4 linked regions of the Homo sapiens genome follow. The protein of the gene in region 1 interacts with the protein of each later gene in a pairwise test. Each region holds a gene or a part of one and is shown in the gene's direction. Other genes may lie near its edges. The genes, in order: NFKBID, EFHC2, HOXD3 and LMO3.

What was found.
Region 2: the proteins of NFKBID (region 1) and EFHC2 interact in binary tests that used the Homo sapiens proteins (3 or more experiments, as listed by UniProt).
Region 3: the proteins of NFKBID (region 1) and HOXD3 interact in binary tests that used the Homo sapiens proteins (3 or more experiments, as listed by UniProt).
Region 4: the proteins of NFKBID (region 1) and LMO3 interact in binary tests that used the Homo sapiens proteins (3 or more experiments, as listed by UniProt).

The regions. Positions count from the first base shown.
Region 1 is NC_000019.10:35,887,452-35,890,574, reverse strand, and holds the end of NFKBID (NF-kappa-B inhibitor delta), read left to right. Parts: intron 1-84; coding exon 85-201; intron 202-520; coding exon 521-685; intron 686-1,962; coding exon 1,963-2,016; 3' UTR 2,017-2,623; downstream 2,624-3,123. UniProt on the Homo sapiens protein: Regulates the expression of IL-2, IL-6, and other cytokines through regulation on NF-kappa-B activity. Functions in the regulation of inflammatory responses.
Region 2 is NC_000023.11:44,340,639-44,348,247, reverse strand, and holds the start of EFHC2 (EF-hand domain-containing family member C2), read left to right. Parts: upstream 1-4,575; 5' UTR 4,576-4,659; coding exon 4,660-4,701; intron 4,702-7,609. UniProt on the Homo sapiens protein: Microtubule inner protein (MIP) part of the dynein-decorated doublet microtubules (DMTs) in cilia axoneme, which is required for motile cilia beating.
Region 3 is NC_000002.12:176,152,562-176,160,330, forward strand, and holds the start of HOXD3 (homeobox protein Hox-D3), read left to right. Parts: upstream 1-4,745; 5' UTR 4,746-4,891; intron 4,892-4,906; exon of another isoform or gene 4,907-5,373; intron 5,374-6,689; exon of another isoform or gene 6,690-7,376; intron 7,377-7,769. Other genes in the region: HOXD4 (homeobox protein Hox-D4), read left to right, coding at 47-381. UniProt on the Homo sapiens protein: Sequence-specific transcription factor which is part of a developmental regulatory system that provides cells with specific positional identities on the anterior-posterior axis.
Region 4 is NC_000012.12:16,596,141-16,603,174, reverse strand, and holds part of LMO3 (LIM domain only protein 3), read left to right. Parts: intron 1-2,306; coding exon of another isoform or gene 2,307-2,314; coding exon 2,315-2,520; intron 2,521-4,207; coding exon of another isoform or gene 4,208-4,280; exon of another isoform or gene 4,281-4,383; intron 4,384-7,034.

The DNA.
Region 1 (3,123 bases):
AGGGTCTTTAAAGACTCCTGGATTCTGTGGGAGGGCACCTAGGTGTGAGGCTGGCCCTGACCTCTGCCATTCCCTTCCCCTCAGGAGATCAAGAGCAACAAGACAGTTCTGCACTTGGCCGTGCAGGCTGCCAACCCCACTCTGGTTCAGCTGCTGCTGGAGCTGCCCCGGGGAGACCTGCGGACCTTTGTCAACATGAAGGTGGGAGCTGGGGCTGGGAAGTGCAGATTGTGTGGGGTACGGTAGGGGGGGCAGTGGGATGTTAGGGGTCCTGGGGGCTGTGGACGTGGAGGGGACGATGTGTGGGATCTGCAGGGGAAAGTATAGGAAGCAGACACAGATTGCCCCAGAACATGTAGTCCGTGGACACAGGGATGCATGCAGCGTGGCTGTGGCCGGGGGAGGTCTGGGATGTGAAAGGACAAGTGTAGGACGTAGACAAGGCAGAAATTGAAGTGCAGTTTAGAGGCCTGGGCCAGCTGAGCCCAGATCCCCACCAGCCCTCCCCTTACTTTTCCAGGCCCACGGGAACACAGCCCTCCACATGGCGGCTGCCCTGCCCCCTGGGCCGGCCCAGGAGGCCATCGTGCGGCACCTGTTGGCAGCTGGGGCGGACCCCACACTGCGCAACCTGGAGAATGAGCAGCCCGTTCACCTGCTGCGGCCCGGGCCGGGCCCTGAGGGGGTAAGTAAGCACTGAGCCTGCCTGTAGAGTGGCCTCTGAGCTCGCGGGCGCGGGATGACCTCCCTGCCCCACCCAATGCTCGCTTTCAGAGAATGACTTCTAATCTCGGAAGGTGACTTCAGCCCTCAGGCAACCCTGACTCTATAATGTGACCTCTGACCTCAGTGTTTCATCCTTTACCCCAGAATGGTGACTTCTCTGATCTCTACCCCAACCCTGACCTCACAGTGTGACCTGTACTTCCAACCCTGAATCTTGCTTGACCTCAAGGTGTGACCTTTGATCCCCCCAAGTGTGACCTCCTACCCCCTGCCCCTAACCTTGGGTCCTGACCTCAGATGTGACCTTTGACCTCTTACCTGTTCCCTTCAATTCCCTCTCATTCCTCACCCCCAGGTGGGAACCCCCAGCCAGCAGCCCCTTTCCCTTCACTGAAGTTCTGCTTCCTGACCCTTTCTCAGTGTACGAACCCAGGCCTTGACCTTCTTCCCACATCTTTATTTTTATTTGTTTGTTTGTTTATTTATTTATTTTGAGGCAGCGTCTTGCTCTGTTGCCTAGGCTGGAGTGCAGTGGCATGATCATAGCTCACTGCAGCCTCGAGCTCCTGGGCTCAAGGGATCCTCCCACCTCAGCCTCTCCAGTAGCTGGTACTACAGGCAGTCACCACCACACCCAGCTAATTTTGTTTTTTTTTTTTTTTAAGAGATGGGGTCACACTATGTTGTCCAGGTTGATCTCAAACTCCTGGCCTCAATTGATCCTCCCGCCTTGGCCTCCCAAAGTGTTGGGATCACAGGAACCATCACTCCCGGCCTCCTTCCCAAATCTTTTTTTTTTTTTTGGAGGCGGAGTCTTGCTTTGTCACCCAGGCTGGAGTGCAGTGGTGCAATTTTAGCTCACCGCAAGCTCCACCTCCCAGGTTCAAGTGATTCTCCCACCTCAGCCTCCCAAGCTGGGACTAAAGGCACACGTGCCACCATGCCCGGCTAATTTTTGTATCTCTGGTAGAGGCGGGGTTTCGCCATGTTGGCTGGGCTGGTCTTGAACTCCTGACCTCAGGTGATTTGCCCACCTTAGCCCCACAAAGTGCTGGGATTACAGGCGTGAGCCACTGCACCTGGCTCTTCCAAAATCTTGACTCTGGACCTCTGATCTTCAAATCCAAAGGGACCCACTCAACCTCTCTTCTCTAGCCCCTCCCTCTGCATGGCGTGCCTTCCCCACCTCTCCTTCCAACCTGACAGACTTCTCTCCCTCCTTTGCCTTGTCTACAGCTCCGGCAGCTGTTGAAGAGGAGCCGTGTGGCGCCGCCAGGCCTGTCCTCTTAGGACTCAAACCCAGACCCTGGACTGATTTTCCAGTCCCCACCGTCCTGCGGGACAGCCAGCGTATGCTAATGTTGCAAACCCATGATAATGTATGTGGAATATCCTGCCATTGGGGTTTTACATTAAAACCCCAGAATGGCTGCAGAGGGGTGAACAGGCCCCAATATTTGGGGTGCTGTGATACCCCTCTTCTACCCACAAGGAGCCCTCTTGATGATTTCTGTGAAATCGAGGCCCCTTGATTGTTTCTGTGAAACACCCTGCACCCCTAGTCCTTTCCCCACTGAGATCTTTCGGGTTCTCTCCCCTAACTCAGCTCTTCGTTCCCAGAAACCCAGATGTAATCCCCCTACGTGGTGCTTGGGGCATCCCGATACCATCTCAGTAAATCTCCTACAATGGCCTCCTCACCCTCCCCGGGACCCACACCCTTCAGGTCCTCACCCTGAGACAGGAGGGACCCTCTGAGATCAGGGACCCTTAGGTCTCACTGCTCTCTGATTCAGAGCTCAGCTGGGCCCCCAGTTCCAGACCCCAGCATTCCCGGTCACTCCCTCCCTAATCTGAGCATCACTCAAGCTCTTTATTAAACTCAATTTGGGCCAGATTTGGTGGCTCATGCCTGTAATCCTAACACTCTGGGAGGCCGAGGCGGGCGGATCACTTGAGGTGAGGAGTTTGAGACCAGCCTGGCCAACATGGTGAAACCCTGTCTCCACTAAAAATACAAAAACAATTGGCTGGACATGGTGGCATGCGCCTGTAGTCCCAGCTACTTGGGAGGCTGAGGCAGAAGAATTGATTGAACCCAGGAGGCGGAGGTTGCAGTGAGCCGAGATTGTGCCACTGCACTCCAGCCTAGGTGACAAAGAGAGACTCTGTCTCAAAAAAAAAAAAAAAAAAAAATTTAAACTCAATTTGGACTAGAACCACTGTTGTCTGATCTCTGGGGGCACTGGTGCAGGGGAGTGGCTGTGATGCCCGCTGAGGGGTCATATTGGGATGAATGTGCCTGAGGGGGGAGGATGTAGCAGCCACCATGGGTGCCAAGTCCATATCCTGTCACCCTCACCCTGGCGACACAAGAGGGACTGGCCTTTAGGAGGC
Region 2 (7,609 bases), on another chromosome or scaffold:
ACAGAAACTTGGCACATTTCACCTTAGCCCAGTGATCAAAGAGAACCTCATCATTGATGGTAAAAGCACATTATGTGCCTGTTCCTTTGATGAACTAGAAGGACACAACAGTCCTCCTGTGGCGTTCTTGTCCAAAAGCCATAAACTGAATCTCCTCATGAGGAAACATCAGTCACACCTAAATTGAAGAACATTCTACCAAATACTTGGCCTAGGCTTTTTTCTTTTCTTTTTCTTTTTCTTTTTTTTTTGAGATGGAGTCTCACTCTGTCGCCCAGGCTGGAGTGCAATGGCATGATCTTGGCTCACTGCAACCTGTACCTCCCAGGTTTAAGCGATTCTCCTGCCTCAGCCTCCTGAGTAGCTGGGATTAAAGGCACCTGCCACCACGCCCGGCTAATTTTTGTATTTTAGTAGAGATGGTGTTTCGCCATGTTGGCCAGGCTAGTCTCGAAGTCCTGGCCTCAAGTGATCCGCCCGCCTCGGCCTCCCAAAGTGCTGGGATTGCAGGCGTGAGCCACCACGCCTAGCCATGGCCTATCCTTTTCAAAAATATCAAGGTCACAAAAGACGAAGAAAGATGGAAGAACTGTTCCCAATTAAAGGAGAATAAAGAGACATGACAACCACGAGACATGACAATCAAACACCATGTGTGTTGTTGCATCAGATTCTGGGTCAAAACAAATTATTTTTCTTTTTGCTAAAAAAGGACATTATAGGCCAGATGTGGTGGCTCATGCCTGTAATCCCAGCACTTTGGGAGGCCAAGGCAGGAAGATTGCTTGGAGCCAGTAGTTTGAGACCAGCCTGAACAACATAGTGAGACCCTTGTCTCAACAAAGAAAAAAAAATTAGCCGGGCATGGTGGTGTGTGCCTGTATTCCCAACTACTAGGGAGGCTGAGGTGGGAGGATCGCTTGAGCCCAAGAGGTAGAAACTGCAGTGAGCCGTGATTGCACCTGGGTGACACAGCAAGTCCCTGTCTGCAAAAAAAAAAAAAAAAAAAGGACATTATTGGTACAATTGCAAAATTTGAATATGTATTTTAGATTAGAAAATAGTATTATAAGGCCGAGATGGGATTGCTTGAGGTCAGGAGTTCGAGGCCAGGCTGGGCAACATAATGAGACCCCATGTCTACAAAAAATAAAACAAATTAAAATAGCTGGGCATGGTGGCACATGCCTGTAGTCCCAACGACTTGGGAGGCTGAGGTGGGAGGATCACTTGAGCTCAGGAGGTGGAGGCTGCAGTGAGTCATGATCATGCCACTGCATTCTAGCCTGGGCAACATTGTGAGACCTTGTCTCAGAAAAAAGAAAACAGTATTGTATTAATATTAAATTTCTGATTTTGATTATTGCACTTCAGTTATATAAGAGACTGTCCTTATTCTTAGGAAATACACACTGAAGTATTTAGGAGTCAAGGGGCATGATATCTGCAACTTAACTCTAAAATGTAAAAGATATATATGGGGAGAATGACAAAATTAATGTGGTAAAATATAAAACAATTGGGGAATCTGAGGAAAGGATAAATGAGAGTTATTTGGACTGTTCTTGCAACTTTTTACTAGCTTGAAATTATTTCAATTTAAAAAGCAACAGGGAATTTTAAAAATGTTTGTAAGAACATGTAGGAGAATAACTGTTCTTTTGGAGTAGTATAAGATTTTTGAATTCACATACAAAACACCAAACAGGCCAGGTGCAGTGGCTCATGCCTGCAATCCCAGCACTTTGGGAGGCCAAGGTGGGTGGATCACTTGAGGCCAGGAGTTCGAGACCAGCCTGGCCAACAAGGTGAAACCCCGTCTCTACTAAAAATACAAAAATTAGCCAGGTGTGGTGGTGCATGCCTGTAATCCCAGCTACTCAGGAGGCTGAGGCAGGAGAATCACTTGAATCCAGGAGGCGGAGGTTGCAGTGAGCCTAGATCACATCATTGTACTCCAGTCTAGGTGAGAGAGTGAGATTCCATCTCAAAAAATAAAAAGTAGAATAAATCAAAAAACCCACCAACCATAACTGAAAGAATGATATATTTGAGTAAAGTAACAAATTTATGTACAATAAAGAACTCTATATAAGTGGAGTTAAAAGACAAACGACAATGAGAAAATATTTGCTATGCCTCGGATTAGTATCCAGAATATCTCTATATCTATCTATCTATCTAAAAAAAAAAAACTACAAATGACCGAAGAGAAAAATCTGCAAAGGATATGAATAGCTGAGTCACAGGAGAAAGTAACAACCATGGGAAAACATGACCAACTGCTTAGGGAGAATTAGGGAGAAACAAATTAAAATAACAATAGTATACCATTCACACTTATTCAGATGATTATCCAAAATTATATAATTTGGTAATACCTATTGTTGAAAGGATGAACGGGGAAGGGGACTTTCTTAATTGGTTTATCTGTCTGTAGATCATCTAGCAAAATCTAGTAAAGATGAAGCCATGCACTCAGATATGTACGTAATTCCATCTTTCAGTATGTGCCCTAGATCATTGCCAAAGGAACAGGCAGAGTCGCTCACTGCAGCATTGTTGGTAACTAGTGGAAAATTGGAAACAATCTAATTGTCATCAACAGATGAGAGCAGATAGTTAAACAATTTGTGGTATAATCATACAATGCGTTTAAAATTAATGAACACTACATGTGTCAATGTGTAGAAATCTCAATAACAGAATTTTATTATTATTATTTTCAAGACAGAGTCTTGCTCTGTTGCCCAGGCTGGAGTGCAGTGGAGCAATCTCAGCTCACTGCAACCTCAGCCTCCCCGGTTCAAACGATTCTCCTGCCTCAGCCTCCCAGTAGCATATTAATATTCTACTAATATTTTTAGTAGAAACGGGGTTTCACTATGTTGGCCAGGCTGGTCTCGACCTCCTGACCTCTTGATCCGCCTGCCTCGGCCTCCCAAAGTGCTGGGATTACAGGCATGAGCCACCGCGCCTGGCCTCAATAACAGAATCAGGCAAAAAAAGCAAGTAGCAGAAATTTAGAGTGTAAAATTTATAAACACAGAAGCAATAATGGATATTGTTGATGAATAAAAAAGGAGATACAGTCCCTGCCCTGGAGGTATTTGGGGGCATTTAAAGAAATGTCAAGTAAACAGGTAATTACAATGTAGTAGGATGAAAGCCACGATCAGAATAGACACCAAATACAGATGGAGGCGGCAGGAAGAAGGTGAAAGAATATATTGAAGAAATGGCAATACCTTCTATGCCCCACTCCCACGCTGGCCTCAAGTCCTGAAAGACAAGAAGGGGTTACTTATGTGAAAGATAGGAAGGAAGGGTGTTTCTAGACGATAGTGTTATTTGCAAAAGCCCCAAGAGGAGAAACCGCAGAGCCTGATTTAGAAACTGCCAGTGGTTTCTCAGAGCTGGAGTAGATGGAGGAGGGGGCAAAGAAAGGGATGGAGGGCATTGGTAGGTGCCCTCTGACAAAAGCTCCTCAGACCAGGCTATAAGGAGTTTCACCACCTTCTGAAGGCGGCGGGAAGGCTAGATTATTGAAGCAGAAGAGTAACAGCTGCACCATGAATTATAAAAACGACGGCTCTGGAGGCAAGATCAGTTAGTTTTTTGTGTGTGTTTGTTTTTCTTTTTAAAGAAGAAAACCAGGCAAGAAACAATGGGATCGCAGCTGAAATAGACGAGGTGGTGACTGAGAGAGAGCATCGAGTCCAACCTTTAGGGCTTCAGGGAGGGATTAGACGTAGGTGTCGGGAGAGGAGGTTCCTGGCCCGGCTATCTTGGGGTGAACGATGGAGTGACAGGGGTTGCGATTTGTGACACCTGACTCCGCCCCGGCCACCCCTGATTGGGCCTTACAAACGTTTAGTTCAAATACAAAAATGGGCCGGACACGGTGGCTCATACCTGTAATCCCAGCACTTTGGGAGGCAGAGGCGGGAGGGCTGCTTGAGCCCAGGAGTTCGAGATCGGCCTGGGCAACATAGTGAGACCTTGTCTTAAAACAACAAACAAACAAACAAACAACAAATATAAAAATATCCAGAAGAAAAACTGAAGGCGGTGGTTACCATTACAACGCGTTTTCGTCAGGGTATATGTGGCTTTAGATTCATCTTGAACGTTTTAATTACAAAATAAAAGCTGATGTCTATGCAACATAGGAAAATATCGACTTGTGTAACATCTCAGTGAGCACACGGGCGTCATATTACTTTCTGTACTTTGCTGTGTGTTTGAACCACATAGCAAAAAACTGTTGGCGACAAGAATTGGAAAAGCAAGAAAGTACAAGAAAGGCTTTGAGTTCTATAAGGGGGTTAAACCAGAAAGCGGCGGGGGCAGGGAACAGTCAATCTTTGTGTGTGCACACTGCGTGTGCAGAGAGAAGACTCCTCAGGAGACCAGGACCTGGCTGAGTGTGTGCGGGGATGAAGCGGGTGGAGGGGAACTGGGGCTGGGGAGGAGGTACGCGCCGCGGAGGTGTCCCCCGCCCCCCACGATCCTTCTCGCCAACCCCCCGCCCCTCCTCCCTCCGTGACGCCGCTTCCCGTCTCCAGGCAACGTGGGGGCCAAACAACACGGCCGGGAGGCGCCGCTGCCTGCCGGGCCCTCTCTTCTGGGACCCTGGATTTTCGGACACTGAGCGCCATGGCCCTGCCTCTGCTGCCGGGCAACAGCTTCAACCGCAACGTGAGTAGGAAGGGCGTCCGAGGTCACAGCTCCCGGCTGGAGTCTGGGGTCCAGGCAGGGTCGTGGCGTGGCCACCTCCGCAGACTCTCCTGGAGGCCCCATGCTGCTGCCCTGGGTTGGTGGCAACTTGGACCAAACTTTATAGGCTGCTTCTCCCATCTCTCCAGCTGCATCTGAATGTTTTTCCTAATTTAGAAATATATAGAGAGAGTCCTTATAGGTGGCAGGACCCTCAAAGGTAACAAATAATAGTGACGATAACCATTGGGGGTTTAATGTGTGCCAGGCGCTGTGCTTTAATCACCTTATGCAGCATCCAGTGTCCCAACAGCCCTTTGAATTAGGTAGTTTTTATTCCCAGTTACTATTGAGGAAACTGAGGCACAGAACCACACAGTCTCAGTGGTGAAGCTGGGTTTCTTTCAAGCAACCTTGTCTCCACAGCTCAGGAGCCTAATCATTATCCCCAGTATCCTGTGTGAAAAAAGATACCGTTTCAATTATCAAATTGAAGAAATCTGGCACTTATCAAGAGGGGTAGGTGGCAGATAAGAGTTCTATCAGCCTGTAAAGTTTACTCCCAAACTTTATAGAGACAGGCACCCAAACTTGGAGGGATTTTTTTTTTCTCTATTTATAATTGGGAGGGGTTCATTTCTTTTTTTTTTTTTGAGACGGAGTCTCGCTCTGTCGCCCAGGCTGGAGTGCAGTGACCCGATCTCGGCTCACTGCAACCTCCACCTCCCAGGTTCAAGCGATTCTCCTGCCTCAGCCTCCCGAGTAGCTGGGATTACAGGCGCCCGCCACCACACCGGCTAATTTTTGTATTTTTAGTAAAGATGGGGTTTCACCATGTTGGCCAGGCTGGCCTCGGACTCCTGACCTCAAGTGATCTGCCCGCCTCGGTCTCCCAAAGTGCTGGGATTACAGGCTGAGCCACTGCGCCTGTCCTGGAGGGGTTCATTTCAAAAGAAGATGAACGTACAGAACAAAGCAACACAACACAAAAAACCCTGAGCATGAAAGAACTTTTGCCAATAAATAGCACCTCATTTAAACGACAGCAGGAAAATGATTCAGGCTTTTGTTTATACTGGTTACTACCCTTCACTTGGGTCAGCCATCTGTGTCTGCAGGAGAAGCTAATTCCCAATTAGATGGGAGGGAATTAGATGGAGCCACTCAAGGCAATTGTGTAAACCTTTGATAACTTTAGAAAGCAGGCAGCAGATTGAAGTATTTGGCTTTATGGTTTCCAAACACTGTCTGTATCTAAGTTGTTGGCCCTGAAGTACAAGTTTTTTCTTTGTAGCTTCACGCCATTGAATTCTGACCCCTACACGTCTGGTCAGTCCAACTTTGAACACTGATTTGTGCATTTCTTGGTTGATGGGCAGAGGCTGGCCTTCCAGCATAGCATTGCCCTTTGGTAAGTTTAAGCCAGTCACGCAAACAAGAAAGGCCCCTGAGAGACGGGACATGAAAACAGATTCCAGAAGTAAAGAAGCATGCTGTGTAAAAGTAATTTTAATAAAAAATGAAAGTAAAGCCTACAGCTTTTTGCCCAGCAACACTCTGATTACCAGTGCCTGCCTCCTGCAGAAGTATCATAGCTCTCACGTGCAGTGATTAAGGATGGGAAGGAAAAACAGTGGATGGATGAAATATTAATAAATCTGCAAGGTTCTGCGTATATTTTTGCTTTTTAAAAAACTTTAAGATCATGAAGTACAACACATATACAGAAAGATGCACAATGGATGATCACAAAATGAATATCAAGAAATTAAATATGGGGGCTGGGCGCAGTGGCTCACGCCTGTAATCCCAGCACTTTGGGAAGCAGAGATGGGAGGATCCCTTGAGCCCAGGAGTTCGAGACCAGCCTGGGCAATATAGTAAGACCTCATCTCTACAAAAGATTGAAAAAATTAGCCAAGCGTGGTGGCACATGCCTGTAGTCCCAGCTACTCAGGAGGCTGAGGTGGGAGAATCATTTGAGCCTGGGAGGTCGAGGCTGCAGTGAGCCATGATTGCATTACTGCACTCCAGCCTGGGCAACAGAGCCAGACCCTGTCTCAAAAAAATAAATAAAATAAAATATGACCTGTTCTCCAAAAATACCACCCTTGACTGGGGTTGCCAGATTTAGCGAATAAAAATACATATCTCAAATACTGCATGGAACCTGTTTATGGGAAAGGATTATTTATTGTTTACCAAATTTAACTGAGAATCTTGTATTTTATGTGACAACTCTACCTATGAACCTTTCTGTTCATTACCCCATCTCTACTCTCCAGATATAACCACTGTTCTGGCTCCTATCACTATAATTAGGTTTTGCTTGCCTTTGAACCTTTTATCAATGGAAATGTTTGGTGTTTATTCTTTTGTGACTGGCTTTTTTAGCTCAACAGTATGTTCGTTAGATTTGTCCATGTGGCTGTCTATAGAGGTAGTTTGTACATTTTTATTACTCTGTAGTATTGCATTGTATGTTTTTCACATCATTTATATATACATTTTACTCTTGATAAATATTTGGCTTGTTTGGGGTTGTTAAGAATAGTTTTACTGTGACTATTTTTGTTCATGTTTTTTGGTAGGATTGCTAGATCATACAGTATTCGTATGTTCAGCTGTAGTAGATGCTGTCAAAGTGATTATACTACTTAAATTCCCAACAGCATTTTATGTTCCTGTTGCTCCACATTCTTTCTAACACTTGGTATTGTTAGTCTTTTAAATTTTAGATATTTTGGTTGGTGGGTATAGCAACTCTTTGTAGTTATAATCTGTACTTCCTGATTCCTAATGAAATTGAGCATGTTTTACACGTTTGTTGGTCATTTGTATGACCATTTATTGGTCACTGCTTTTTTTTTTAGACGGAGTCTTGCTCTGT
Region 3 (7,769 bases), on another chromosome or scaffold:
AGTGGCCGGGCGCTGACCTGCCTGTCCTGTCTGTTTTGTCTCGCAGTGAACCCCAACTACACCGGTGGGGAACCCAAGCGGTCCCGAACGGCCTACACCCGGCAGCAAGTCCTAGAACTGGAAAAAGAATTTCATTTTAACAGGTATCTGACAAGGCGCCGTCGGATTGAAATCGCTCACACCCTGTGTCTGTCGGAGCGCCAGATCAAGATCTGGTTCCAGAACCGGAGGATGAAGTGGAAAAAAGATCATAAGCTGCCCAACACTAAAGGCAGGTCATCGTCCTCATCTTCCTCCTCATCTTGCTCCTCCTCAGTCGCCCCCAGCCAGCATTTACAGCCGATGGCCAAAGACCACCACACGGACCTGACGACCTTATAGAAGTGGGGACCCTGGGCCCATCTCTCCCTGCGCACCAGGCTGAGCCGAAGCTGCGGGGGCAGGCCGGGCCTGCTGTCACCTCGCTGGGCTCTAAGGTACTGTGGGGTGGACCTGGGACAAGCAGGCCGCCCTCGGACTAGGTTAGCATCCTGCCCGAGGGCAGCCCCCTCCCTAGAGCGGGATGGGGATGGGAGGGGGGGCGGGATTCTCTCTCTAAGTATATTATATGGCAGGAGCTACTGAGAACATAAAATCTTGGCGAGTCATTAAACTTATGAAAATCACCGCTCTTGGATTTTGAATTTGCAAATGAAGGTTGGATGCTTTATCCCACTGTGAATTTGGACATTCTCCCCCACTCCACCCCTCCAGGGTGCTTTGTGGCTTAATAATGTGGGGGAGTTGAGGCAGAAGGTTGGCCACCCCTGTGCTAGGTGCTTTCAGTGGAAGCCAGAGAGCTGGGTCAGGATTTCTGGACTTTCTGGGTTGTCTATGGAATTTCATGTGATTAAAAAATATATATTTTGCTCCCAGTGGCCCCACCTCCAAAGAAATGGGTCTAAGAAGGAAGTAAAAATGGGTTATTTTATGTTTAGATATTTGCTTAAATATTTATTTGTTGGGAAATGTGGTACAGAAATAACTGACACCTTCATGCCAAAAATCTTAAAAAGGTGAAAGGGGCTGAACTTCAGGGAGCAGAATCAGAGATATGTGCACTTACTTCTGAACTCCACCCCTCCCCACTCTCTGGAAATGTATATAGGGGGGCCTTAACCCTTCCAGAAGGAAGCAAAGGATTCACTCAAAGTTGCATTCTTGAAAATATATTTCCACATGTGTTTTTTTCAGCACTGTGCTTACAACCAGTTCTGGGTGATTAAAGGAAAGGGAAAAAAACCAACAAATGGTCCAACATTTTCCTTCTGGGGAAAGAAAACAAAACCTCTATGCACTGGGTCATTAGATAATGACTGAATTTTCTGTTCCAACTGGATTCCAAATGCCCTAAATACCCTCATATAGCAGTGTTTTACAGGAATTAGTGTATGGCCTGTGTAGGGGAGGGGCTGTGCAGTGGGGAGAAAGTGGGAAGGTGAGGAACTCTTGCTTTAAGAAGGAAAAAAAAAAAACCCTAATTGAATCTAGAAGTCCACAAAAGTTAGCCTTAGAGTTTTTTTCCCCCTGAAGTTTTAATTTTTTTAAAAACCAAATCTAAGGAAGTTTTCCTCAGCTCATTAATTAGAAGCAGAATTTGTAAAAGTATAAAAGTTTTCAAGCACTCGTCTTTGCCTTGAGAATAGTGGTTTTTTAAAGAATCACTCTCAACAGGGGAGATGTCCTCTAGTCGTTTTTCTTCTGCCTCTCCTGGGAAGGGTTCAAAGTTCATTTTTCTAAAATGCTGACCCTCAAGCATAAGGAGGAAGAAGTCAAAGTTAATGGCCAGAGTTCATATACTCAGATGAAACCAGTCTTCCCAAGGCCTCAGGCTCCAAAAAAGGTTGTAGCTATCAAAAAGTGACCAAAGTGGGAAAGGGAGAAAGGATAAGCTTAAAATTTAATTTTAAGATCCAGAAGGGGGGTATTTTTTTCAGTACTTCAAAAACACTTTAGAAGGTTTCTGTTGTAATTTAAAAAATATATTTAAGTGGGAGGGAAAAAAGAGTTTCTCTGTAGGCTTGTTCTTTGGCTGTGTCTCCTGAGAGCTGAGGGCAGGTATTCACTGCAGTCCCTAGGCTGAAATTCCGCTTCTCTGAAGTGTCTTCCAAGCCTTGGTCTTTTGTATTAGACCCTGGGGACTGCTCTTTGTTTCTCCTTGGGGTGAGCCTGGCTCTCAGACTTGCACATGGCAATACTTGAATGTCACCACGTCGGGATATTAAAGATGGATATTCGTGCATTATTCACATCATTGTTTCTATGACAAAAAGCACAGAGTTCATACATAGTCAAGACGTCTTTTTTCTGACGCCCTCACGTTGAGAAGCTGAAAAGGTATTTTACCGAAGTTCGGGTAAATTACAGAATCAGGTTCATCCAGAGGACAAATTTTCTATTTGATTAGCTGTATTTCAGCCGGGAGGACTGACCTCTAAACCCCTAACCTTTTGGACTCTAACTACCCTTCTCTTCTTTTTTCCTCTCTAACATGGAGAGCAGTCTTTGGATGTACCATTTGAAAGGAGCCGCTATCCTTAGGCAAGTTGGAAAGTTGCTAAGCTGCTTTCCTAAAACCCAAATCTGTCTATACATTGAACCTTCTCTTTGAGAAGGGGAAAAAGGTATATATTTTCACAACATCCAATTACATATATATAATAGAGATTTGTTGTATAGATTTTCCCCCACCTCAGAAGTTCAGGTTACTCACCCCCAGTTTCATACCAAATGCCACACAGGCTTAACTGACTGCATCCCTGCCCCAGAGGAAAGCCAAGAAACATGTTTTCATGAGGAAAACCCAAGCTCCTTCTCAAACATAGCCCCACTACTTTGGAAAGTAACTTAATCAGAGAAACAACTTCTTTGTTTATAAGTCTCAGCTCTCCTTCTCAGCTTGGAGGGATTCTTTTGAAATGTTAATGGAGCCTGGATGGCCCAGAGTGCAGCCCCCAACCCTGAGGTCCCAGTCGGACCCCAGCATCCATTTGGGCCCACAGGAGTGGGCCAGGGAAGGGGTAGGGCCCCGTAACCACTTAGGGCAGGGAAGGAAATGGGTTTCCATCTGAGAACGTGCTTTGGAGAAAGCTAGGTGTGGAAAAGCTCCAATGCCCATTTGCTATTATTTGTTTCCAGTTTGTTCCTTTAAATATGAGCCAGAAGTGTTTGTGTTGGTGTTTTAAAAACAAAAACAAAAACCGTGTTGGGGTCCTGACTGGGGGAGGGGGAGAGTGAAGTGTTTGCTGAGGACATTGCTCCTCTGACTCCCATCTCACTTTGTCCATCGCAGCCTTTTGTTGGGAGATGACACTGTCAGTCAGCCCATGATGTCTGTTCACACGAGATGCTTTTTTAATAGAATTGACCAATGTTTTGCTGCCACTGATTAAAGTATTATTTATACTAATTGTTGCTTGTAGTTTTGATGTAATTCATTGATCTATATTTAAAATAATAAAAGGTGTAGCAAAATCTCCCTCCTGTTTGGTGCCTTAACAGAAGCATTCATCCTTTGTTAAGTCTTCTAAAAGCTAACATTTAACATAAACAAGTTATTATTTTCTGCAATAAATTAGGCACCATTTTTTGGGGGGTGCCTAAAGTGTGAAGGTTAAACCATGTAAGGCTTAGCAATTCTATTATTACCACCTCCTTAATGTACACACACTCCCAGTTGGCCACCATATTTTGTGAGCATTGGGAAGCCTGGGGTTGAATTCAGGGTACAGAGTGTTGGGTGTTAATTTTTTGAAGAAAAAGTAATTGCCCAGGTTAATAGGGGGATCCAGGTTGGCATTCTGCTGGGCCCGGGCCAGGCCCCAGACCTTTTTGGTCTGGAAGCCCTCAGAGGAAGTCTTTGGGAAGTGGTGGATGAGACACCTTACTGGTCCCCCACCCCTAAGGCAGGGAGAGCGTGCTGGGTTCTGGGCCGAGCTGAGGCTCCTGGGTGGCTGCTCTGACCTGACCCCCGGGCCTCCACTCTTGGGCTTCTACTTTTCCAGTACTGTTAAGCTCCTGTGGGGACTCCAGCACCTGCCCCTCCTTCTTCCGCGCCCCCTCCACCCCTCAGGCAACAATAAACACTCCCCACTATAAAAAGTGCCCTGCACTACATTTACCGCAAGGGCTTCTTTACATCTTGGCCTCGCCTTGAAGAAGGGGCCAAGACAGGAGTCCCAAAATAGATGGGGGTGCTTGTTCCAGACAGGAAATGAGCAGAATGCATAAAATCAGACATCTGTCCTTAATATATGGAAGGGCTTGCCCCAGACGCGTGGACATGTGTATTTATAAGTGCGCAGGCAGAAGTTTAAATATTCAGACACATTTTATGATTGTCCTCTGCCCGTCTTCTGCTTAATGGCTCCTCCCGTGCCCACCAATACATCAATACCGTTGTGTGTATTGAATCGCGGGCAGGGATGAGGAGGAAGCGAGTCCATAGCAGAGCCCGCTGAGTATAGAGTACAGTAAATCGGGACCCTCGGCGGACGGCGCTTCCCGCCCGCCTGCCCGCCATGTTGGGGAGCCCTCCCTGCCCCCCGCGCCGGGCTGGGCGGCCGGGGCTCGCTGGCAGCCGGGGGAGGGCCTTTCATAACCCGGAGAATTTTCTAAGTGCGAGGAAGATGATAAGAATAGATTTCTACAAGTCCCGACCACGTGATTGGCGAAATAATTAATTCAGCACGTCCCTTAAGAAACACGGAGTCGTCATTAATCTGCCACGCAAAGGGCTCTCTCCGACTTGGAAAGTGCAGGGATCCCAAGAATATCACCCGTCCAGGGGGGCCGCGCGGTGCCCCCGGCCCTCCACCCCCGGCCCCCGGCGGGCGCGGGAGCGCGGCCGCAGGTAAATATTTTGGCAACTTTTATTTCATCAGATTTAAATCCTTAATGAACTTAGCTGTCACGGCCGCTGACAAATAGTTCCCTTTGCTTCCTGATTTGGAACTGCGCGCCGGCGAGAAGTTGTTAGTGGCTTGGATGGTGACCTTTGGTTCAGCAAAGCTTTGCACTTATGAAAAATTACTGAGAGCGGCCGAGTGTGTGTGTGTGTGCGTGCGTCCGCGCGCGCGCTTGTGTGTGTGAGAGAGGGAGAGACAGAGACAGAGACAGAGATAGGGAGAGGGTGTGTGTGCGAGGCGCTAGGGTGCCAGGGGGCGAGGGGTGAGGGGCGAGGTGCACGCGGGCTGCTCCAAGACAACAGGAGTTGTAAAAAACCGGCCCGGCTGGCGGACGCGCCTGGCGCACGCGGGCCGAGGTTGCCTGGTCGCCTGTGTCTACCAGGAACAATGGTCGCTGTCACGGCATCTGCCGCCTATTCTTAAACCGGTGAGAAAAGGCCCTGGCCCTCTTTTCAAGCGAGGGTCGTAAATTTTTCTTTGCGTCATAATAGAAGGCTATAAAATCGAGTTGAAATTTTACCCCAGGCAGGTTTTAACCAACAGATAATGATTTCCGAGTTGCCTCTCCCCCCGCTCCTCTCTCCCCACCCAAGTTCTGCTGCCTCTGTCACCCCAGCGAGTTTCTTCTTCTTTCCCGTTTATTTTTGTGTTTGTATTTTTTATTTCTATTTTGGAAGAGCTAAAATAAACGCGAGAAGAAGTCCCTGCAGCCCGAGTGGGAGACCCCGGGGCGACGGGAAGCCTGGGGAAAGGAGGATGGGGGAGAGGCCAGTGCGGGCTGCAGAAGGCTGTTTCTCTGCTCGCTCCCGTTTCTGCCTTTTTTCACCGGCACTCCAAGAAAATTGGGTGTCCTAAGAGCCACTCCGCTCCGTTCCACCCCATCCCCAGCTTGCCAGGGTCGTGGGCTGGGGCAGTAGCGAGCATTCTTTTCTTCCAGCTTGCAGCTCCGACCCGGGCGCCTCTTCATTCGCCTCCTTCCCTCTTGTTGCTGTGAGATACCTCCATTGGCTTTCAGAATGATTTCAGCGAGCAGGGGCTGGCTGCGCGTGGTGGTTGTTTTGGGATTATGTGTGCGTGTGTGTTTGTGTGTGTGTGTGTTTTCATTTATTTTTTGGTGTGTGTATATTTCCCCGTCAGGACAGAAACAAAGTTTCCCCCATTATGAATTATACATTCAAACAATAACACATTAATTCAATTATTCAAAGATGACAAATGTTTATGTGCTTTGCGAGTGACTCGGGCGCAGATTCCAGGCGCTTTCTCTGAGCTGCTTGCATTTTTCTCAATGAGAATCGTCTCCCCTCCCACCCCCCCCACTCCAACCCACTCCAACCCACCTAGATATCCCCTTGTAGGCCCAGAGAGGAACCCACAAAAAGCTTCCCCAGCCCTGCTGGCAGCCCGGCAGCCAACAGCCTCCCAAGGCCCCGGCTTGGCGGGCACTGGCCCGGGCTATTTTATCAGTGTGACAATTGCCCGGGTTGGTGTGATAAATCATCGTAAGTAATTCCTGAAAGGGTGCGAGACTGTTGGGGGCCGGGCGAGGACTGTAAATCTTTCCGGTTTATTGCTCTATGAACATATGCTCCGATTGAAGAAGGCTTAGATCCTTTCCTGGAGACAAATTCCCGCAAAGCAGCCCCCCTCTTTGGCTGGGGATTAACACTTGCTGCTGGCCGTCAGGTCGGCCTCTGGCAAGAGGCTAGGGGGCGGGGTCCTCCGGGTGGGGGTGGGCTGGGGTCACCCACGATCCGGCTTCGAGAGACGCCCCGAGTGGGCCTCTGGCCAGGCCCGGCCAGGTGAACAAAAGGATGGGCTCGTAGACGGTTCTGGGGGCTCGGGCCTCCAGGACATTCCTGCGCCTCTGGAGTGGGGATGCGGTGGACCTTACCCACTCCTCTGGGGCTCTTCTATGGCTGCTGGGCACTTTCACCGGTCTCAGACCCTGCAATCAGCAACAGAGCATTTCACTGTGCCTGATGCCGCTGAGCAGAGCTGGCAACGAAACCAAAACTTCGGGGACAGGGTGGAGAGTTCCCCGTGGTGCGGGATTCCCGAGTGTGGCCCCGGCTGGGGGAGGGTCTTGGGCGCTCATTACAGGCCAGGAGGTCCGCTGCTGGCGCTGGCACGCTTAATTCTTTTTTCCCACATTGCAGAATCATTCCCACCAGCCACTCGGAGAGTGGTGGGAATCTGTCTTGGTTTAATATTTCTAAAATATAAGTTTCATTGTCCCCCAGGTTAGCCCAGCCAGGACTCATTGCGCAGTCCTCCTCGCCTTCCTGGAGGCGCCGCAGGAAGCGGGAAGTCGCGGCTTGGCGGTTGCTGGGCCTGTGGGATCTGCGGGTCCTGCCCAGACCTGGAGTCGCACAGATCACGGCGGGCAGTGGCTCAGCGCCTAGGCGGCTCCAGGCCTCGAAGGACCAGGTTGGGGTGCTCAGGGATCAGAGAGGGGAGGTCGCTCTGGGTCCGGGTCGCCTGCTACGCGCCTTTTCTGTCTCAGAAGTGGCGGTGACTCGGCTGCTGAGTCCGCGGAACGAGCCACGGAATGGTGGTGGTGGCGGGGTTTTCTGAGGTGACTGGCCAGAGCTGAGAGTCGCGGCTTCCACCTTTGGGCCGGAGCGGGTCCTCGCCCTGGGAGGAGCTGGGCGTCGGCCTCCGCGGCGGGGAGGCCGCCTTGCCGGGGTGCATGAGGCTGCGGAGTACTCCGCGGGCCCGGGAAGCTAGGGGTACCCTCAGCCTCTGCTGCTCCACGGCAGTCTCCAGAGACGCTTCTAAGAGAGGCAGTTTCTAAAATTTCCAGCTCCCGGACCAGTCTGG
Region 4 (7,034 bases), on another chromosome or scaffold:
ATGTCAACACAACAAAAACATTTTGTGAAGACAAGTAGGGTAGTGTTACTTGTGCCAAATGTTGGTATCCCCTGTCTTGGTTGCAAAGCATTTTGAATAAAACAGCTGACCTTCTATGCTTGATGGTAGAAACACAACTGTGGGAAATATAACTTAGCTGCTACTGGGATTTTTTTTTTTTTCGATTTTTCATCTTTGAGCTTTGTGATAAATAAAAATAATAGCCTTACAAATTTAATAGAATGGCCGTTAATTAGGATGGCTTAATTAGAATGGCTTCTCTTAATATTTATTATCTAGGTGTTTTCAGTAACACCATCCAGAATTTCACTGAGTAAATCAAAACTTCCCCTTCCCCCTAGATATGTGGTTAACAGGCACTTGGATCTGTTGTTCACTGTAATTAATGGGATTCACTCCTTGTGGAACCTTGCTAGAAGAGGATAACTAGTTCTGATCAAAGAAACTTCATTTGTTAGAAGTTCTAGAGAGTGAGATTTAGCAGAGCTATCAAGGGTTATGATTAATCTACACTAGGCCCTTAGCTCCTTCAAAGGAAAGGAACAGAAAGCAGGCTATAGGGATACCACCTGCTCTTCTTACAAATCCAGCTGTTAGTCTGCAGCTCCGGTGACTACAGCTATGCTTATGATGCAGAAAGAAAGAACAGCTACTCTGCTTTATTTCCTGCCATTCCCTACACAACTCTACCAGACGAGTTATTTTCTAATGAAAGTTCAACATCCTAACAATATTTTGTGCAACTCATGTATTATTTGTAGTTAGAAAAGTTATTCCGCTCTGCGGATGCCTTGATGTCTCTTACCAGTGGGATTTTTTTTTTAAAAGGTTGTGAAAGTTGTGATGGGGGTGAAGCCTTCATCATAAGATATCAGAGGAAACTGGAGGAGGTTTAGCTGTTTTGGAGAAGGAAAATGTACAAAAGTGCAGATTATAGCTTGACATTTCTTATCCTATAATGCATGCACATTTGGTGTTTTGTATCCTTCTACATGCAAGTTTAAAACTTTATGCCTAGGAGAGCAAACATAATGCAGCAGAAGGGTCTCTGGACTGTAAGAAGGCCATTTGGCTGGAGTCTATAGCGTAACTGTCTTTCAGCTTTGAGCAAGTCTCTGAACCTCTCTTGGGCCTCGGTAACATAATTTGTAAAATGAGGGAATTTGGAATTGATGATGTCTGCAGTACTTTATAGTGCTTAAAATGAGTTATTTGATAAATATGAGGCATTGGATAGTTGGTCCAGCTTCTTGCTAAAGCTGGGTGTTTTAATACCTAGGAAATAAGAAGACACTCAAGGTGAATGTCCATTCATTCAAAAGATTTCAATCAAACTGTAAAGCCCATGGAATCCAGCTGGATTCCTTATTTATGATGGATTTATACCTTTAAAATATATAAATGTTTCTATGTTTAGCATAGTATACATATAACATGTATATATTTACTTATATATGTTTGTATAATTGTATATATATTTAGATCTTGCCTTCTATTGTTTTTTCTTTCCTTTATAAAACAAATAATTGCATGTTTATGGTAATAAATGGTATAATCATATACTTTAGGTTTACATAAAAGCATATAGTATATAGTTAAGTAATCTGCCATTAATATAGGTGCTGACTGATGCTTGTGAGTATAAATGTTATATTTGAACACAATGAATACTTTGAAATATCAAGGACATAGAAGAAGTATTTGGATGCAAGCAAGAAATATAGGATTGGTGAGCTTTTTGGGTAGCTGTTCTGTGTACTTAACTATAAACACCTCTACTGCTGAATAAGGTTAGTGTAACCCCATACCAGGTGCCCTCTCCTTCCACCATCAAGCACATATTAAGTGAAATTTTTAAACAGTTAAGCAAAACTCATTTTTTTACTTGTAGGGACTGTGCATAGATTAATTTGTTAAATAGCTTTCTTTTCAGATTGTTATTTACTCACATTTTCTTTCTAAAGGAACTGCTCTATGGGGAGAATGAAGATACTATAAAATTATTTAATGTTATTGAACTTCATATTTATAATGTCAATTTACCATGGTCAACATGAATTTATTATTATTGTCACTTGGCATGTGTAACTTTTTGAATGATTTAATAAGCACTTGATAAAGTTTGAGACTTTTTGTTTCCAAAATTGGGTTTGATTTCAGTATAGCCCTAAACAAGAAAAGCTAACACTCCTAGAATAAGGAAATATTAAATATTTAACTTGTTTGAGGTCTTTTTATTCTGTCTGGTAGTCTCAGCTCTCTTTTTTGCTTTTGTCTTCCTTTAGGTATACAAATGCTCTCAGTCCAGCCAGACACCAAGCCGAAAGGTTGTGCTGGCTGCAACCGAAAGATCAAGGACCGGTATCTTCTAAAGGCACTGGACAAATACTGGCATGAAGACTGCCTGAAGTGTGCCTGCTGTGACTGTCGCTTGGGAGAGGTGGGCTCCACCCTGTACACTAAAGCTAATCTTATCCTTTGTCGCAGAGACTATCTGAGGTAGGAATTATCCTTGCACACCAGTGATGACTGGATGCCTTTTAAAGTACTTTTGTAAGTGTATTTTTTGTTTGCTTGTTTCATTTCCTTACTGCCAGCTTATATTCCTGAAAGAAGTTACCTGTCAGCCTTCAAAGCGTTGCCCTGTGTGTGTTACTCAAATTAATGCTTAAGGAATAGCCAACAAACCACAATATTTAAAGTATTTCAATTTGGCTTGCCTGCACACTCAGGCAGTTGGTTATGGCGCTGCCTATGTTGAAACTGCCAGTTAATGTCAAGGATGTATTTGGTCGAAATCAGCATTCAGGTTGATTTACTTATTTTTTCTTTTTTTTCTTTTTTTTTTTTTTTTTTTTTTTTGGAGCTTAAGGGGGAATGGGGGTTGAGCATAACACAAAGAAATTGATCAGCCATTTGGCAAAATATCTTAACTATTTTTAAAAAGTTCAACTTGAAAAAAATGGACTGTGTAAAAGAGTTTAATTGTTGCCTCTAAGTTGGACCTGAATTTAGTCTTCTAAAGTTATTCAGCTGTCTTCTCTGTTTCAGGTGTGTCAGAGGAAGTCAGGTGCAAATCCTTGGTTAATATCTATTAGTGCATTTATTGTAGAGTTTTGAAAACTTTCCCCAAGTGTAGATACATCTTCCTCTCGCCCCACCTCATGACATTCTAAACGGGAATCTCAAAAATACAACTAAGCAATTGAACCGCCTCAGACTTGCCAGTAGTTTTATGGATAATAACAAAGTAAAGACCTCCATCATTATAGGAAAATGACAGCCACTCTCCAACCTGTAAACATCTGAATGCTTTCAGGACAAGGCAGGTGTTCTTGGTTATGGAGCTATGAAGCCTACTAAAGCTTGTTTTCCAGCATTAAGTACTCAACACAGAATTTCTGCTGAAGGAAAATTATTTTGCTTTTCAGGCAACTTTGTGACTTACTTCAGCTGCAAATTACTTATATTAATAAAGTAGGATCTATCAAATTAGAGAAATGATATATGGCATCATTGGGATTTTCATATTTAATACAATTTATCATTTTTCTGGTCTGACATTAAGCGATTTATTTGGAATTTTTTCCCTTATGACAAAATTTATCAATCAATGGTAACTCCTTTAGTACCTTGGTCATTTGATGAGGTGTTTTCTAGGGAATTTGGTCGTTCTTAGTATATAATTCAGCTATTTTCAGTCAGATCCAATCTTTAGATATAAAAATATATCATTTGATTAATGGTAGTTACAAGAGGGTGAAAGCGGTACTGTTTATCAGATTCTACTCCTTCTCGCTCTTAGGACGGCCTCATCTGACAGCCTCCTGACTAATTATGGCCACTTGTTACTACTTCTCTGTGTTCCAAGTGCGTAAAACACATGCAAGGTGCCAACAATGAGAAGTCACTCTCTCCAGCCAGGATTTCCCTCATTGTGTTGGCACAACGAATCAAAATTAATGTACAATGTTCATTTTTTTAGAACTCTCCGGTCTTTGAACTTTCCTCTTTGAAATAAAAATTTCTCTTCTGCCCATTGTGAATTAGAGCCTCATTTCCACATAAAGCATTTGTATTTGCTTTTAGTGATTTAATACTGCTTTTTAGTTTTGCTTTATCTGTACTAACCAATAGTCATAGCTTTTTGACTCCTTTTGACTTTTACATTTGTTTGTAATTTCAGTATCTCAAGTGGATTTATGTTACCATTTCAAATAAGGAGTTTATATAGCCCGGGCAATGTTAAGGTGTTTTAATAAACCAAAGGACAAAAATTAAGTAAACTTGAAAGAATGTCAACTGAAATATCTGGGGTTTTTGAAAACAAAAATAAAAATTTGCCAAGGAAATACCTATATTGTGAGTATAACATGCTTCTTAGCTGTCAACATAGCATCGAGCAAAGACAGTAATCTTAGATTTGTTTTGTTTTCTTTTTCCTTGTGGTAGTAAAAATATATTTGATAGTCTCAAGTGTTTTGCTAAAACGCATTTATCAAAAATAGTTTTCATATCAGAAGTTTTTGTATCTCTATAAGAGTGTATGTGGCTTTTTGTAGAATAACTTTCAGTTACCTCCTGATAGGCTCAAACTTTTAATGGTGGTTAACTTATTAAAAGTATATAATATTCTTTCAAATATAAACCCTGGTCCTGATTGCCAATATATTCATTTCTCAGAGTACGATTTCCGCTTAAATTGGTCATTACCACATTAATGGCCAGTTGTTATGTTAACAGCCTAACGGTTGTTAACATTTCAAACTAAGTTGTTAACAGCAATCTTGTCCCTTATTTAAACTGAAAGTTTGTTGTATATAATGTGACTTATTTGGCAACTTCATCAACACTTAAAATTGCAGAAGTGAAGTGGAGAATTGGTGTGTGTAAAACACTGTGTTACGTGTTATAGATTATGCCGCAGATGTGGTATTTAGTTTTATGTGGAAAGCATGTGTCTCAGTGAAATTGTGTAGATGTTCAACTGCATATGTCTCTGATTGGCAAATTAAAATAGTCTGATTCTGTATGGTAAATCAACAAATATAGTCAAGCAGATTTTATTTACAAATTAATTTCTTTGATTAGATACAAATAGTTGTTCAAAAATGTTTATTAAATGCTTACTGTGTGAGAGGTATGATTTCAGGCAATGGGTGAAATTAGCTAAAGGAAAAAGGAAGGTACACCTAAAGTTGCCACTATCTAATTGTTTATTTAATTACATAGAATCTGTAATATAATCAGTGAACAAGTAATATTCTGTGGTTATTTTCCTGAGCTTTAAAAGTAATTTTTCTCATTTTCCTCCAAATTCAGCATACTTCCATTTTGTATTTTATATAACCAATGTTTAATCACTTAAGTTCTATTTTAAAAGTTGTTTTATTTTTGGCCCTTTGATATTATGTAATTTCTCTGAGGCACCAAACTGAACATAAATAACTTACATATTTATATTTCATGTCTAAATTATTAAGAACATAAGTAAGAATAAGGAAAGTAATAAAATAGTAATTTGCCTGTCCACATATATTGTTGGTTACAAGTATTGTCCTGGGCCAGATAATTTTTTACATACAGTGAAAAGTAAAATATTTTTGCCAATTACATTTAGCTTCTTAATACACTTCTCCCTCCATAAACAGAAAGAAAGAAACACTCCTAATTATGAGCAATGAGACTTAAAGATCTGTGTTTTACTTGTGTTACTTTGAGTAGTGATAATGATGATGTGATTTATAAGTTCTTTGAATGATGATTTGAGATATTAAATAATATGAAAATATAATAATTTAGACTGTAAGATATTTTCTTAAGGGTTATAGAAACTATTATTATGGAAAATTTGATGTCTTTCCATTTTTTTTCTCCTTTATGGCACTAGTAGCTATATTTAAGAGAAAAAGAAAGAAAAATCTTCCATAGTTTGTACACTAAGTATCAAATCTTAACAGTGGAATTTTTCACTTTCCAGAACTGGACTGGCATATCATTCATTTAGCTGTGGAACATAAAATGTACATATCTGATGAGACAGAATTTGCCCATTTGTGGGATTGCTTTCCTCCTTTGGAAACTCATTAGCTAAAGAAAGAGAAGGACTGACTTTTTAAAACTTCCTCTAACATGTTTCTGACTGAAATTATGAAATCTACCCAGTCAATATTTATATGCCAGGCAGACCAAGAAATGTATCTGTTAAAAATCTATCCAATGCATTTATAATTATTTTTATTTTTTTGAAGAGTAACTTATGACAAATTAGATATAGAAACATCTTTGTACTTTAAGTTGGAGCTTAAAATTGATATTGTCTAAAGTAGATTAAAAATGACTGTGTAAAAATAGCAAAGTTGTAGTGATAATGTTTAAGGTACTCATCACTGCGATCTATCCGCCTTATTTCAGTTTGAAAAAATATGAATAAAGTAGCCAGCCAGTGCATAATCAGAGTCTTAGAATTAGGAATTCTACATGCTTTTATTTAATGTTTTGCAGCAAGCATTAAATAGAACTAGGAGAAATACCAAAATACTTTCTTTTTCAACTTGAAGGCAATAAAGGATGTCAGAATGTAACTGGAACTCAACTTCTGGGCAATTTTTTTGTTGTTCTTTCTTTGAACCTGCAACTTTTTGTGACGTACTTTAAGCATTAAGTCTATATAGGCTGTATGTATCTTGTATCTCTATGAATGATATCTTGCCAGAGTTTATTCAAAGCTGTTTGCTGTGGTATGTGCCATGGAAGCTGCTTATAGCTTTTCCTATATAAGAAGCTGTAAAATGTCTTATATAAAATTTAATGCAATTTGCTATTTTTATACGTGAGGATGATTTGTTTAAAATGAAACTACTGGGAAAGAGTGATGCTTCATGCTTCACCATAGTTGCTAATTAACTAAAATGATTTGAAGCTTGCTATGCTGACTACAAATTTTATAGGCTTTAATATAATAATATAATAACTCTAAAAGAGAAAATAAAAATAAATTGCCACATAGGGCA